Homo sapiens: one gene and its partners. The protein of the gene in region 2 purifies or fractionates together with the protein of the main gene of each other region. This does not show direct contact. Each region holds a gene or a part of one and is shown on either strand. Other genes may lie near its edges. The genes, in order: KLHL8, XAGE2, THOP1 and ZNF462.

Region 1 (3,568 bases), on a different chromosome or scaffold from region 2:
TTCAATAGCAACAAAAGCACAGATTTATTGAAATGAAAGTACACTCCACAGAGTGGGAGCGGGCTCGAGCAAGTGGCACTCGAGCCATGATGAAGTCCTAACTAGTGGAGTTAGGAATGCTTTGTATGTTGATAGTCAAGTGCTTTACTAATCCAAAAGCCTTATTTTCATTGTATTTCCATTCATATTGGCTAATCTCTGGAAAATTACTCAAAGTTTTTATTAATAGTTGGTATTTCAAGCTTTTTAAACAAAAGTCTAAGGAATCATTTAATGAATGTTGATATTCTACATATTTTAATACTGAAGTGTGACATGATTTTTCCCTGAGTACTGTTAAGTTTAGCCTGAAGCTCCCACCTTATGTATTTTAAACTTGGCCTAAAAGTTTCTCTGTACACAGTAAACTGTAACCTAACTGGTTGTGTAAACAGACTGCAACCTACTCTTGTGCTAATCACTGAGGTTCAGCCAATTAAAGGCAACCAGTTGTTCAACCTGTGTTCAAGTAAGGCTGACCCTGAGCTGTAACTGACCCGTCTGTTTCTGTACCTCACTTCCGTTTTCTGTGTGTCACCTTCCTTTTTCTGTCCGTAAATAATTTTCGACTATGCACCAGCACCAGTGTCTTTGAACCTATTCTTGTTCCAGGACTGCCCAATTCTTGAATCCGTCTTTGCTCAGTTAAACTCCGTTAAATTTAATTGTCTAAGGTTTTTCTTTCGTAATACTATCTTGAATTAGTCACACGTTCACTGATCTAACAAAGAAAGAATGTAAATTAGAAAATTAAGTAGTATCAGGGACATATAGTATTTATATAATTCTAAATACACGGTAATGTCTAATATTATGTAGCTTGTGTGTTTTTCATCCAATTTTAAACATCAGGTCTTTAGACTTTGATTCCTTTCATTTTCAAATTTCTAATGAAATGATTTTGGTAATTGGTAATTATTTTTTTGTACCAGAGAAAGAAAATGTACAAATAAACTTTCAGGAATGTAATTAACTATATAACATCAAAGGAGAATCAGTGCATTAAAAAGCCAAATTTTTGGCTGTTCCTATTTATACATGTGGCTTAAAGATCTTTATAAAATAAAGATGGATATTTATTCTAAAAGGGTACATAGGGGTGTATGTGTTAAATAGCCACATTTTAGTTTGTTTGAATCAAGACTCAAATGGAATTGTAAAGGGACAGAATCTTATTAAAAACAACATGAAAATGACTTGCCGGCCATTGATTTGTACAGCTTGGATGGCAAGTGTTAAAATAATGGTTATCTAGAAATTGTAGAACCCTATTTTATGATACTATTATGTAAGAGAGTGTTGGCAAGTTATTTAATGGAGCAGGTTTAAGTCATGTGAGACTTACAAATATTTGCATAGAAACTGAATCCCAGTGGTGGCATGTGGAAATAATTTTTTAAAGGATATGCTTAGGCTATTTAAAAGTTATTTAGTATCAGATTTCAGATCCCATTTTAGAGCTGACGTGAATTTGAAAACATGCCAAGCTTTATGTTATAGTCTACATTACAACTTTAGTCTCAATGGAATCTAAATACTGCCTTGTGAGTTCTGTGAAAAAATTTAATATAGCATAACAGACAGAAATGATTGTCTTGTACTTTCTGAAATAAGTGATACTGCTTCTTCCTCCACATTAGTGAAAAAAGACTGAGGAAGGGGCTTTTATAAGCAAAACCATTTATACATTTGAACACTCTAGGAGTTGTCATTTTAAAATTAGTTCTCAAATAATGAGATACAACTGTTTATTATATAATCAAAACACTACATGAAAACAGGAAAACTGTTAAAATAGTACTATAACTGTTACTTGTATTTGATTATTATAAACTCCTGGGAAAATGGGATAAATACTGTATTAAAAAGAAGATATCTTCCCACTCAGTACCAAAAACTTCCAGATGTAAGTAAAAATTTAAGTGTAAAACATAAAACCATAAAAGTAGTATAAAAAATACGTGAAGTAAATATAGAATATTAGAATGATTCCCATTTCTAGCAGGTACCTAAAACAATAAATAAAAAGACTTCATTTAATTACATAAAAATCCATAGGGTTTTTATATAAGAGAATAAAATTTGAAAGCAAACTAAAAGAGAAGTTTGAAATATATATGACAAATGCCTAATACTCTGATTATATGATGAGTACTTATAAATAAAAAATTTGTAGTTCATAGAAGAAATACAAATAGCTCAAAATTTATAAATGATTCAATCTTAAGAGCAAAAAAGAAAAAAAAAGATGAGATCTTTTTATTCATCAAATTGGCAACTATGGCCGGGCACAATGGCTCACACCTATAATCTTAGCACTTTTGGAGGCCGAGGCGGGAGGATTGCATGAGCTTAGGAGTTTGAGATCAACCTGGGCAGCATAGACTTTGTACAACAACAACAACAATAACAACACTCAAGATATGGTGCAAATACTGTAAGAAGCTCAGAAATGGACAGTTTGACATTATGTATTCACATATTCACATTGTATCCTTTGAAGCAGCATCTCTACTTACAATAATTTATCTGTTGGAATAATAGAGAATGTGAATAACGATTTAGTTACAAAGAAGTTCACTAGTGTGCTATTTGTAATAGCATACTGTTGGAAGCTATCTGATTTTTCAATAATTAAGGTGATGAGATTGCAGTGTTTTTTTTTTACTGCTTTTATGTGAGCTATATCATTTCAAGATAATGTAAATAGAAAATAAAAAAAAACCTCAGTTGAGCTCATAGTAAATACTACTAAATATTTACTCTCTGCTCCAGTTTTCTGATTGATAAATTGTGGATAATAATAGTACTTACTCATAGGGATGTTGGGACAACTGAGTTAGTATATGAAAAGCACTTAGAAGGCCAGGCTCTGTGGCTCATGCCTGTAATCCTAGCACTTTGGGAGGCCAAAGTGCGTGAATCACTTGAGCCCAGGAGTTTGAGACCAGCCTGGGCAGCATGGCAAAACCCTGTCCCTACTGAAAAATACAAAAATTAGCTGGGTGTGGTGGCACATGCCTGTAGTCCTAGCTGCTGGGGAGGCTAAGTTGGGGGATTGCTCGAGCCCAGCAGGTTGAGGCTGCAATGAGCCATGATCACGTCACTGCACTCCAGCCTGGGCAACAGGGTGAGACCCTATTTCAAAAAAAAAAAAAAAAGCACTTACAATAGTGGTTGGCATGTAATGAGTGCTAACTGATGTTTGCTGGTATTAATTCACAAAATGTCCCTGAAATATAACATAGAAAATCATGGTTTGTTGTGTGTATGTTACAGATACATATATAAAAGAGGCCGAGTGTGGTGGCTCACACTGGTAATCCCAGCACTTTGGGAGGCTGAGGCAGGTGAATCAGTTGAGGCCAGGAGTTCAAGACCAACCTGGCCAACGTGGTGAAACCCTGTCTCTACTGAAAAAACAAAACCCACAAAAATTAGCCAGGCGTGGTGGTGCACGCCTGTAATCCCAACTACTTGGTAGGCTGAGGCAGGAGAATTGCTTAAACCCAGGAGGCAGAGGTTGCAG
Region 2 (4,228 bases):
ATTGTAGTAGAGAGGGGTTCCTATATTCCCCAGACTGGTGTCACTTTCCTGAGCTCTAGCAATCCTCCTACCTCAGCATCCCAAGGTACTGGGATTACAGGTGTGAGCCATTACACCTGGCCACAATTCTCAATAGTATCAAAATACCTGGGAATGAAATTAACAGAAGAGGCTGGGCACGGTGGCTCATGCCTGTAATCCCAGCACTTTGGGAGACCAAGGCAGGCAGATCACGAGGTCAGGAGATTGAGACCATCCTGGCCAACATGGTGAAACCCCATCTCTACTAAAAATACAAAAATTAGCCAGGTGTGGTGGAACGTGCCTGTAGTCCCAGCTACTCAGGAGTCTGAGGCAGGAGAATTGCTTGAACCCAGGAGGCAAAGGTTGCAGTGAGCCAATATCATGCCACTGCACTCCAGCCTGGCGACAGAGCAAAATTCCATCTAGAAAAAAAAAAAAAAGAAAGAAAAAAAGAAATTAACAGAAGATGTGCAAGACTTCTTTGGAGAAAAGCTTAAAACTTTATTAAGATATTTTAAAGTAAAATATCTAATATAAAAACAGTTTGTGTTGTTTCAGCTTATCTTCCTTTAAACCTGTGATTTCCCTTCACCTGTAATAGAAACATAACAGGTGGAACATTACTAGCAGAACTGTATTTAGATCACATTAAGATATGCAAATGACACCAAAGTTTTTGTTTCGTACAGTGGACTAAGACCATAAACCCAAGAGTCACCCTCTGGCTTACATTCAATTAGACCTCTGTGGAGACTTTGGAGATAAACTTCCAAACATATACATTATTAATATTTTTTAAACACACCCTGCTTTCTAGTGCTACAAGGAAACCAAAAGACAGTCCGAGGTCAGAACACATTAAATCAAGTGAAACTCTTAAAAAGGGATTTAATGTATAAAGCAAAAATTGTGTATAATTTTACTAAAAATATAACAAATACACACAAAAAAACTAAGAAACAAAGGAATTTATAAAAAATGTACAATTTAATATTTTGGCTTGAAACTATGGTCTGGATGTCAAATAGGCTCCTGGAAATAGTATGAAAACTATCTTTTAAGAAAAGAGTTAATGTCACATTAGAAGCTGCATATGCGTGGTGAATAGAAAGGACAGTATTGCATTTGTTTTTTCCTCTATTGTGCCAAAGTGCAAAAATGTTGCTTTGGGTTAGTTTACCCTTCTGTAGATATTAAGGTATGGTAAACATCTGTCCCCAGTTTTCACCTATAGTCCTGATGTTAATACAAATATCTCTTTTTACACTTGAAAAAATTCCCCTTTGTATAATTAATTATATGATCGCATTACTTTTAATCTATCATTATCATTATTGATATCAAAATATGAAAGAGGTATATATCATGAACAGTATGGCACGAAAAAAAAGAAACGGAAAGGGAAATGGAGATGTAGAGGAAGACATCTAGAATAACTAAATATTTATTTCTAAAAGTAAATATTATCAAGGGACAACTAGCAAATTTCACAAGTTCATGCACAGTCTTTGTGATGAATAGATATTCAGGTACTACTGGGATATATTTAATAATGCATGCATTCCTAGCTTATCAACCATTTCATCTATATTCCGAAAATATTAGAGTTTAAGAACGTATTCACTTTCAGCTGGGCGTGGTGGCTCACATCTGTAATCCCAGCACTTTGGGAGGCCAAGGCAAGTGGATCACCCGAGGTCAGGAGTTCGAGAACAGCTTGTCCAACATGGCGAAACCTCGTCTCTACTAAAAATACAAAAAATAGCCAGGCATGGTGGTGCATGCCTGTACTCCTAGCTACTCAGCTGAGGCAGGAGAATCACTTGAACCTGGGAAGTGGAGGTTGCAGTCAGCCAAGATCATGCTGCTGCACTCCAGCCTGGGTGACAGAGCGAGACTCTGTCTCAAAAGTAAAACAAAAGAAAACAAAAGAATGTATTTACTTTCAGTTATACTACATATTCAATATCTGTGTCTTCTTCATATTCTGTATTGTGCTTTTCCCATTTTCTTCAAGACTGGAGAAACAAATAGATAGTCTATTCATAGCTATTTTTAAAATAAACAATGTGTTAAATGTATTACTTTTGGATTAGTTTTCCTAATCCAAAATCCAGGTTCCTACCTGTCTGTTATTAAGTACCTCTTTCCTTTTCCATTAGGTTTATTCTGTTGCTCTTTTATTATTATATTGATTATTACTTTATCATGTAATTTGCTATCTATTCTAATAAGATGTGCATTTAAGGCTGTGATCTTCCTAAGAATACAACTGAGGCTTGTTCAATCGGCTCCTGAAAACTATCTTTTAATGTAAATAGTTTAATGGAATGGTTCAGCAGTGCAGAGTAAAACATTTAGGTAATTTCTTCCCTAAACATGGAGTTCTTCCTTTAAATTCAGAAGCTCTTCTCATTAACAGTCAGCAATTTATAAAAAAAAATGTGTAAAAGATACTTATGTTGACTACTCAAGAATTAGTACATTATAGTCTTTGAACTTTAAGTCCTATCATCTGATGTCTCAAGGCAGAAACCTGTAATATGTAACCTATGATATGGTTAGAGGTGATTATATCATGTGTGTCTTTATTACACACAGTAGCTCATGAAGACTGACAGGAGAGCAAAAAGCATGCTTAGCACAGGCATCTTACACCCACCTTGAGCATGACTGACCTACATGCATTCTCCCTACTTCATTGGCCACAGAAAGTAGACTGTCTCTTGCCATTTTATTATTCAGTCATTCAAGGCTTCACGGTGGGAAGGCTTTAAAATACAATTATTCTTTAAAAGCCAGATAATTCAGAATTTGACAAAATCCAAGAACACTCATTCAAGTCTCCATGCTGGAAAACAAACATCAAGCAGAGTGCCTGCTCATTTTCTTAGGAGCAATGAAATCTCAGCTCAGATATTGTAATTGGACTGAAGCTGATTGTTAGGAAAAACAAATCATGGGAATCAGAATATCTTTCTATTCTCTCCAACAGAACCAGAGCATGCAGAAATCAGCATTGAAACGGATTTTAATACATTTGATCTGCATTCACCATTTTCAATAACAGCAAAGATGGGTGTAGAATTTATGGAATTTGTCCAGATTCTCACAAATTGTCATAGAGCTGCTACTAGAATCTCCTTCAGTACTCAGCATATTTCACACAGTCTGGTATTACAAATGCATTATGTATTTGTTAAAAGCAGAAATTAGAAAAGAATCTGAAAATTGTTAGCTGTTGGTTATACTCAGAAGTAAGAAAATGCTGTCATATTTGATGATTCAATATGGCTTTGACCCAATTTGTGTCTGTATCTGAGAGCATTTAAGTCTTGCAGTCAGGCATTGGGATCTGAAGTACCTTTCAAAGAAAGTGTGTATTTGAACACTGTTATTAAAGTGGCAGTAATATTATCTCTCTATGATCAAAAGTATAATATTGTAAAAAATAGAAATCACATAACTTTGTGTCTTAATGAATAACACACCTGCTTCTGGCATTTTAAAGTGCTCTGCTTTTGGTAGAATCTTCCCCTTGACATCAGTACCACCTTCACATCCATCCCCAGTCTTTGTCTGACATAGCTCCTGGAGATCGGCTTCCAGGTCAGGCACTAAAAAATACAAAGGTTATTGAACTTGAGTACAAAAACATGAAGTATAAATAAGGAAGTAATAATATTCTATTCCACAGAGTTATGACATAAAAGCCTGTAGGCTAGTGTGATAATAAATGTGATGCAAAGCTGTCACACTTTTGTTTTCCTGTATTATGAATTCCTATTTTATTTGTTTTTTAATACAGGGTTTCACTCTGTCATCCAGGCTGGAGTACAGGGGTGCAGTCACAGGTGACTGCAGCCCTGACCTCCTGAGCTCAAGTTATCCCCCTGTCTCAGCCTTGTGAGAGGCTGAGACTATAGGCACATGCCACCACCAAGGCTAATTTTTGTATTTTTTTGGCAGAGAAAATTTTCTGGTGTTTCCCCATGTTTCCCAGGCTAGTTCCTAACTCTCAGGCTCAAGGGACCCACCAGCCTCGGCCTTCCAAAGTGCTGGGATTACAGGTGTGAGCCAATGTACCTGGCCTGAAATCTAATATAAAATGACAATCTAAGGATAAATCACACTACACCTTCATTTCCTATACTTTGCCAGTGTGCATTATAAACAGTGAGTATCAACTATGTAAGATATCTGA
Region 3 (3,568 bases), on a different chromosome or scaffold from region 2:
TCTGGCAGCTTTTGAACATTTTACCCCTTATCTGGTAAAGCTGGTTTTAGAAACAGCTAAAACTCGACCCTGGTGATATGGGATATCAACAAAGGAACTGAATCTTGAGTGGTCCCTCTGGTGGCCTTGAAGGCTGGGAGGTGACCACTATGTGACAAGGACCTGGCTTGAGGCCACATGACACATGACAGGCTGGCAGCAGGGCTGTACTTTGACTCAGATTCTCCTGCTGGAAGCTCCGCCAGGCGGGTCTGGAGCCCAGCTCCATGGGGCCAGAGCAGAAATGCTCATCCGCAGGACAGAGGGCGGCAGCAGGGGGAAACTGTGCCCAGGACTTTGCAGGGAGCCTGTATCTTGTCAGGAAGGCCCTGGTTCAGAACCAGCTGAGGGTTTGCTGGGCCTCTCCTGGGAACAGGCCCCATGCTGGGCAATTCCCAATGTCTCCCCCTCTTGCCATCTCACATAACAAACCCAGCCATGCCAGGGAAGGCTCTGGAGACTCAATGAGCACACAGCGCTGGCCCTAAGGGCCGCGGGGACGCGCTGGAACTCTGCTCGCCAGCATCCGGACCTCGCACCTTTTCCGCGCTTCTGTCCTCCAGGCGGGGCTGCCTCTGCTCCCTCCTTGCTTGCTGGCCCTTGTGGGAGAGTTTGTGGCTTCTACCATGCACATGGCCACACATGCTGGGCATGCAACAAGCCGAAGGGGTTTTAAAAATAACTGTGGTACAGTGGCTCACACCCGTAATCCCAGCAGTTTGGGAGGCCAAGGCGGGTGAATCACTTGAGGTTAGGAGTTTGAGACCAGCCTGGCCAATGTGGTAAAACCCTGTCTCTATCAAAAATAAAAAAAAATTAGCCAGCTGTGTTGGCGGGTGCCCGTAATCCCAGCTACTCCAGAGGCTGAGGCAGGAGAATCGCTTGAACATAGGAGGCAGAGGTTGCAGCGAGCTGAGATCACACCGTTGCACTCCAGCCTGGGAGACAGAGTGTGACTCCCTGTCTAAATAAATAAATAAATGCATAAATAAAAATAAAAATAACTGGCTCTTGTCCGCTGCGGCTGAGCTGAGGACCCCCAGTCCCCGAGTACTGAGACGGACCCTGACTCCGCTTTCGTCAGTGCTGGTTTCACTGACAAACCCACCTGGCCTCTCTGAGTCTTGGTTGCCTCAGCCATAAGGTGGAGACGCCCCCTAACCAGGACAGCGGTGGCTTTATGGAACCGGAACAGGGACAGCCATGGGGCTATGGCTGCAGCCTGGGACCTGATTGAACTGTGTGCTTTCTTTCCTGTACAGATGCTCCCTGACTTAGGACAGGGGTATGTCCCAATAATCCCATCGTGAGTTGTGAATATCATAAATCACAAATGCATTTAATAGGAGCGAACATCACAGCTTAACCTGGCCTGTCTTAAGCGTGCTCAGGAACTCACAGCAGCCCACATTCTGGTGAGATCGCCGAAGGCAAAGGCTATCGGATATGAGGTGTTGGGTATCTCATGTAACTTCGGTTTTCAGTTTGCCTGCGTCATTGCAGGCTAGCTGGTAGCTGTGGCTGGCGCCCAGCGTCACAGGACAGCAAGTGCCCAAGTGGCCGGCCTCGGAAAGATCAGCATTCCAAGCACGGTTTCTACTGAACACACACCATGGTGAATCAGGGGCCTGTATTCTGATGCTTTGACATTTGGGTGCCTTGCTGGCCCTCGAGAAATGGCCCCTCCCAGAGACAGCCAACAGCTCGCCTGCAAACATCTTTCACGTGCAAATCAACTAGTCTCGAGCCCCTACACTCTGGGGCACCATCCACCGGCCCCCATTACCCTAGGGCCAGGCACCCGATGAGGGGCAGCCCCCATGCCAGGGCTGGCTGAGATGGTCCAGCCGGCCAACCCTGAGCCCACTCCCCGCTACACCCATGCCTTCACAAGGGACCCCAGCGAAGGCCCTGCCCAGAGCACACCTCCTGACCCAGCCATGCTTCCCATGTGGCGAGCTGCCAGTTCCTGGGAACTGTGACACGCATCTTTCCAGTGGCGGTCGCCACTGCTCTGTTGGTGCCGCTGAACACTGGGCTTCTGCTAACACACTACGCTTGACTTCAGCGCTGCGCTCCCAGCTCTGCACCAACTAACTCATGTCACCCCTGAGACGCCCACATCAGGCACACCGGGCAGTGGGTGGAGGGGCTCCCCTCGTTACCGAGCCTCTGCGCCCCATGTCTGTGTGGACCTGCCTTGCCAGAGTTCAGGTCCTCAGGCAGAAGAAAGATGGACATCAGGCCGGGGGTCAGCCCTGAAGGGGGGACGCTCCCGAGGAGGCAGGGGCAGGGGGCCACAGAAGCTCCACTGGCCACGCCCAGCACTCCCCGCACCCAGTACTCCCTGAGCCCAGCACTCCCCGCAACTGAGCACTCCCCAGGACTGAGCACTCCCCGTGCCCAGTACTCCCCATGCCGAGTACTCCCCAGACTGAGCACTCCCCACACCCAGTACTCCCTGGGACCGAGCACTCCCCCCACCCAGCACTCCCCAAGCCCAAGCACTCCCTGAGCTCAGTACTCCCCATGCCCAGTGCTCCCTGGGACCGAGCACTCCTCACACCCAGCACTCCCGGCACCCAGCACTCCCTGTGCCCAAGCACTCCCTGAGTCCAGCACTCCCCGGGACGCAGCACTCCCTGAACCCAGCACTCCTGATGCCCCAAGCACTCCCTGAGCCGAGCACTCCCCGAGCCCAGCACTCCCCCTGCCCTGCGCTTCTTGCTCCCACCACTCCCTGGGACTGAGCACTCCCTGTGCCCAGCACTCCCCGGGATCGACCATTGCCCACGCCCAGCACTCCCTACACCCAGCACTCACTTCCTGAGTCTCTCTGGGGAGGTGAAGCCCATTTCTCCGGCCCAGCTTGATTAGCCGCTCCAGGTACCGCGCAGCCTCGGGCCTCAGTGAGTCCTTCTGAACTTTCTCCTGGAATAAAAACATCAAAGCATGTAGGACGTGGGCCAGTGCAGCCGCTCCAAAGAGCAGTTTGGCAGTTTCTTAAAAACCTGATCATCCGGCCCCCGTGTGACTTGGCAACTGCACTCCTGGGCATTTATCTCAGAGAAATGACGACCTGTCTCTACATAAAACCTGTGCAAACGTTCGCTTTGTTTGGAAGAGCCCCACACTGACATCAGTCCAGAGCTCCTTCACCAGTGCGATGGCTGAATGGGAATTAGATTGCTGGTGGTCTCCAGGTCGGTATCGGGGTGTAGATGACACCATAGTTTTGCAAAACGTCATCACTGGGGACCTGGGCAAAGTTGGCAAAGGCATTCGATTCTTTCCTGCACCTGCATGGGAACCTCTCATTGTCTCAACAGAAACTCTGGAAAGTGGAGGTGGGAGGATTGCGTGGGCCCAGGAGTTCGAGACAAGCGTGGGCAACGTTGTGAGACCCTGTCTGTATTTAAATAAAAAGAAATAACAATCCACGGCTATCATGGGTCACCCTGATCTGGATTTACCAAAGCACTAGGGCTGCATGATCCTGAGACTGTGGGACACATCAGCACATTCCCAG
Region 4 (3,568 bases), on a different chromosome or scaffold from region 2:
ACCTCAGTGTGGCACTCCTCCAAATGAGTTGACTGTCGAAAATAAAATGTTCCAGAAGAACTGGGAGAACAGGAAAGAAGTTAAAACAGCATGGTTTGCATGCCAGTACTAAAGGAAGAAAAAAAAGTTTGGGTTGGGAGGGCATTGGAGAGAAGATAATTGTAAGTTGAACTGTCTCTTGGATTTATAAGACCCAGGAGAAGTTTCCAAATGTGGGAAAATGGGTTTTTATGAATTTAGATTGTATTTGCAGTATGCTAGGAAGCTCTTTTGGATTTTTTTTTTCCCCTTGAACTTTGCATTTGGAGAACTGCACACACTGATAAAAGGGAAATCCATTGGAAGCAATTTGGATTTACATTTTGTGCTTGGAAATGCTATCATAAAATTTATCTTTTTTCTAAGTCCTCCTATTCTCATCAGCTGAAGCACGTACAGGATTTTTAAAGTGTTTGGATGTGTGATTCCAACACAAAGTTAATTATTTTCACGGCTTAGAAGGACAAAGGATAGAGTGGTGTGGTGTGAGGAGGTGCTAGTATTGTCACCTACAAATGCATTGCCTTTTACTTCTGGTGAGCACATTACTTGGTGTCTTCAAAGCATTCTTGCCTAATTCCTAGCTGGAGACATTTTTTCTTGAGTTATTCTTGGAGGGAAGGTTTTTTTTGTGTGCCAGGTCATGGGTATTTTGGTATTGATTTCCTTGCTTTCATGTGTTTGCTTGTTCAGTTCACTGCATGTTGCTTCTGGATATTAATAAAATACTTGTGCTGCGCCTGTCCACATCTTACCCCCAACCTTATTCAAAGAGTAGACCCTGTTCTTTAGGGTGAAAGGAAGTTTGACAGGTACTTATTTGTTCAAAAAATAAATACTTGAAGATGAGAACTGTGTAATTCAGGAAGTTATTTGCTAGACCTTCACATAGACAAATTTTAACAAAGACCACACCAGGAAAAATGGAGAAAATTCTACTAGGAACCAATAGATCCTGATTAGAATGTTTTAGGATCACTTAGTAGGAAATTAAGCATTTGCCCAAGATGAGGAAGCGAAGTCTTACCTTTGGGTTCAGCTTGGTTGGAGCACAAAAGGAGCTGTAGGCCCAGGTGAGACAACTGTGTCAGAAGTAATAAAGCCCAGGATTTGTGGAGAGAGCTTAGCCGCCACAGAGCCCAGCTGGGGAAGGCCAAACTCACTCTTAAGTTCTCGTCTGAGCAGTTGAACCAGAACACACGCTAAGGCCTCCAAATTTTGGAATTCTTCTTTTTCCTGTTCAGATTTAAGAAGGTAATGCCATTATTCTTCAGTTTTGCTCATGTCAGCTGAGTGTTTCTCTTTTGAACTGGGAAATGCCAGAGGCTGGGGGGTGGGAGCCGATGTCCTCTAAGGGAAAATTCTCCCCGTTAACACTGCAAATGTGCCTTAACATTGTACTTATTCCTCCAAAAATAATTGTTCAGTGGCACAATGTGGGATACTTGAAAGATGTTTGCTGCACAAAGGTTCCAATACTTACCTGCAGATTAAGAAATGAGTTTCTAAACCATCTCATTTCTATTGCTAATGAAAAGCTTTGGAAGGCACCTGTGAATTAGAGCTCCAGCTGCTATCATGGTAGGGAAGTTAGGCCTTGAAAGGATACGTGGATTAGCCTGTCAGAAAAGCAAACAGTAGCATCAGCACAAGTAGAAAATAGACAAGGTTGTTAAAGCTAACAGGAAAGTAGGCTAAAGCATTGCTGTAATTTTATAGTGGAAATTTGCTGGGAAGGAGTGACTGGTTGGATGGGAGAAGGAAAAGAAGAGAAGCAGGAAAATAATTGACTAGCCAAATTGAAGAAGTCTGTCCACTGGGGAAGATCCTACAGGAAGAAGTAAGGCATTGCTTTTAAGAAAGCGATTATAGCAAGTAGAAAAAGACCTTGTAATTTGGTACCTAACACATGTGAAATATGAAGACCAGTGCTCAGGTACACATTCTTTGGCCAGTTCCTATTGTAAAAAATAGAATTGGGTTTGGAGGACAATTTATGTGACTTTGGGGTTACAATTACAGCCTTTCTGATAAAGGACAGATGGAAACTCAAGGGAACTGGTTAAGTAGGCCTAGGTGGAGATTTTCCTGGAAAACGAACGAAGTAGAGAATAGAGCACAGCAGAAAACAGCTGCATTATTAATGGACAGAAAATGTGATAGTCCTCTCTGAAGTGATCCATAGAGCTTCTCTACCTACACCCTGGGTGTTAGAAGAAATGAAGAACAAAGACATGCCTTTTCAGAGGGGAAAGGAATGGACTATGACTACTACCTGGCGTCAGTTTGGGTTTCAGCCATTGACTTGAGCCAAGCGTCACAGGCTGGTCTGTCCTTCCAGTCCCAGCATTTTAAAATCCAAAATAAGGCCACTGTGGTCCAGAATGTTTAGCCATTCTAATCCCTAATTACATCATCCCTCTGTGTTATGACTAATTAGTCAGCAATTGAGCACCAATCATTCAACCCAGATTGCCATGGGCCTGATGGAGGGTCCTTCGTTTGGGGTACAATTTGAATGCTGGGTTATAGCTGAAGATGACCAAAGATAGATACCAGCTACAAGTACTTATCACCCAGAATCTTTTCTCTTCAGTGGTTTCTATCTTAAATAGTCTTCTCTGAAGACTAATTAGTATTTGATAACAATAAGTGAGAAGGGAGTCTTTGTAGAAGAGACCATTTTCTTTTTTCTTTTCTTTTTGGAGACAGTTTTGCTCTGTCTCCCAGGCTGGAGTGCAGTGGCACGATCTCCACTTAAGCAACTGCTGCCTCCCAGGTTCAAGCAATTCTCCTGACTCAGCCTCCCAAGTAGCTGGGACTACAGGCACAAGCCACCATGCCCAGCTAATTTCTTGTATTTTAGTAGAGACGGGGTTTCACTGTGTTGTCCAGGCTGGTCTCGAACTCCTGAGCTCAGGCAATCTGCCTGCCTCGGCCTTCCAAAGTGCTACGACTACAGGCATGAGCCACCATGCCCGGCCTCAGAAAAGACCATTTTAATTTAAATATCGGAGTTCAGTTGCAAGAACTTCCCCCCTTTCTGCTGTCAATTGAATATTGTCTGTTCTAATACTGGGTAAGAACAATAGAAAATAAATATGATTGCTTCATCAAAAAAATCTGCCAACTCTATAGAGTGGGAATACCACATAGGACCTTAAAAAATGCTGTCTTCCCTCGTGGACTGACTCATAGTTAATACTGGACAACGGTTTTTATTTTTTTTTAACATTTAATATGAACCAGGGACTGTTCATACGGTAGAGGAAACTGAGGTTTAGGGAGGTAAAGTAATTTAGCCAAAGTCATGAGGCTGCAAAGTGGGGGAGCCAGGATTCACATGGAGTGGGGACTGCCTCCAGAGGCCTGGCTCTCAGCTGATGGGACCCGGCCTTGGTTATTACTTAGTCTGCTAATAGCTTATGTTCTTGATGGTTTATCTCTTCCAGTTGCTTATGCCAGGAGTATATCCTTGGAGTTCTAGAAGGAAATCTGAGAATAATGGAAAATTAATTGTAATATATTA

The links.
Region 1: the proteins of XAGE2 (region 2) and KLHL8 purify together in Homo sapiens (affinity purification with mass spectrometry; one large-scale study listed by BioGRID and IntAct). This does not show direct contact.
Region 3: the proteins of XAGE2 (region 2) and THOP1 purify together in Homo sapiens (affinity purification with mass spectrometry; one large-scale study listed by BioGRID and IntAct). This does not show direct contact.
Region 4: the proteins of XAGE2 (region 2) and ZNF462 purify together in Homo sapiens (affinity purification with mass spectrometry; one large-scale study listed by BioGRID and IntAct). This does not show direct contact.

What each region holds. Positions count from the first base shown.
Region 1 is NC_000004.12:87,186,114-87,189,681, reverse strand, and holds part of KLHL8 (kelch-like protein 8), read left to right. Parts: intron 1-3,568. UniProt on the Homo sapiens protein: Substrate-specific adapter of a BCR (BTB-CUL3-RBX1) E3 ubiquitin ligase complex required for The BCR(KLHL8) ubiquitin ligase complex mediates ubiquitination and degradation of RAPSN.
Region 2 is NC_000023.11:52,371,957-52,376,184, reverse strand, and holds the end of XAGE2 (X antigen family member 2), read right to left. Parts: intron 3,642-4,228; coding exon 3,516-3,641; intron 617-3,515; coding exon 594-616; 3' UTR 505-593; downstream 1-504.
Region 3 is NC_000019.10:2,795,483-2,799,050, reverse strand, and holds part of THOP1 (thimet oligopeptidase), read right to left. Parts: intron 2,971-3,568; coding exon 2,863-2,970; intron 1-2,862. UniProt on the Homo sapiens protein: Involved in the metabolism of neuropeptides under 20 amino acid residues long. Involved in cytoplasmic peptide degradation. Able to degrade the amyloid-beta precursor protein and generate amyloidogenic fragments.
Region 4 is NC_000009.12:106,869,640-106,873,207, forward strand, and holds part of ZNF462 (zinc finger protein 462), read left to right. Parts: intron 1-1,305; exon of another isoform or gene 1,306-3,568. UniProt on the Homo sapiens protein: Zinc finger nuclear factor involved in transcription by regulating chromatin structure and organization. Involved in the pluripotency and differentiation of embryonic stem cells by regulating SOX2, POU5F1/OCT4, and NANOG.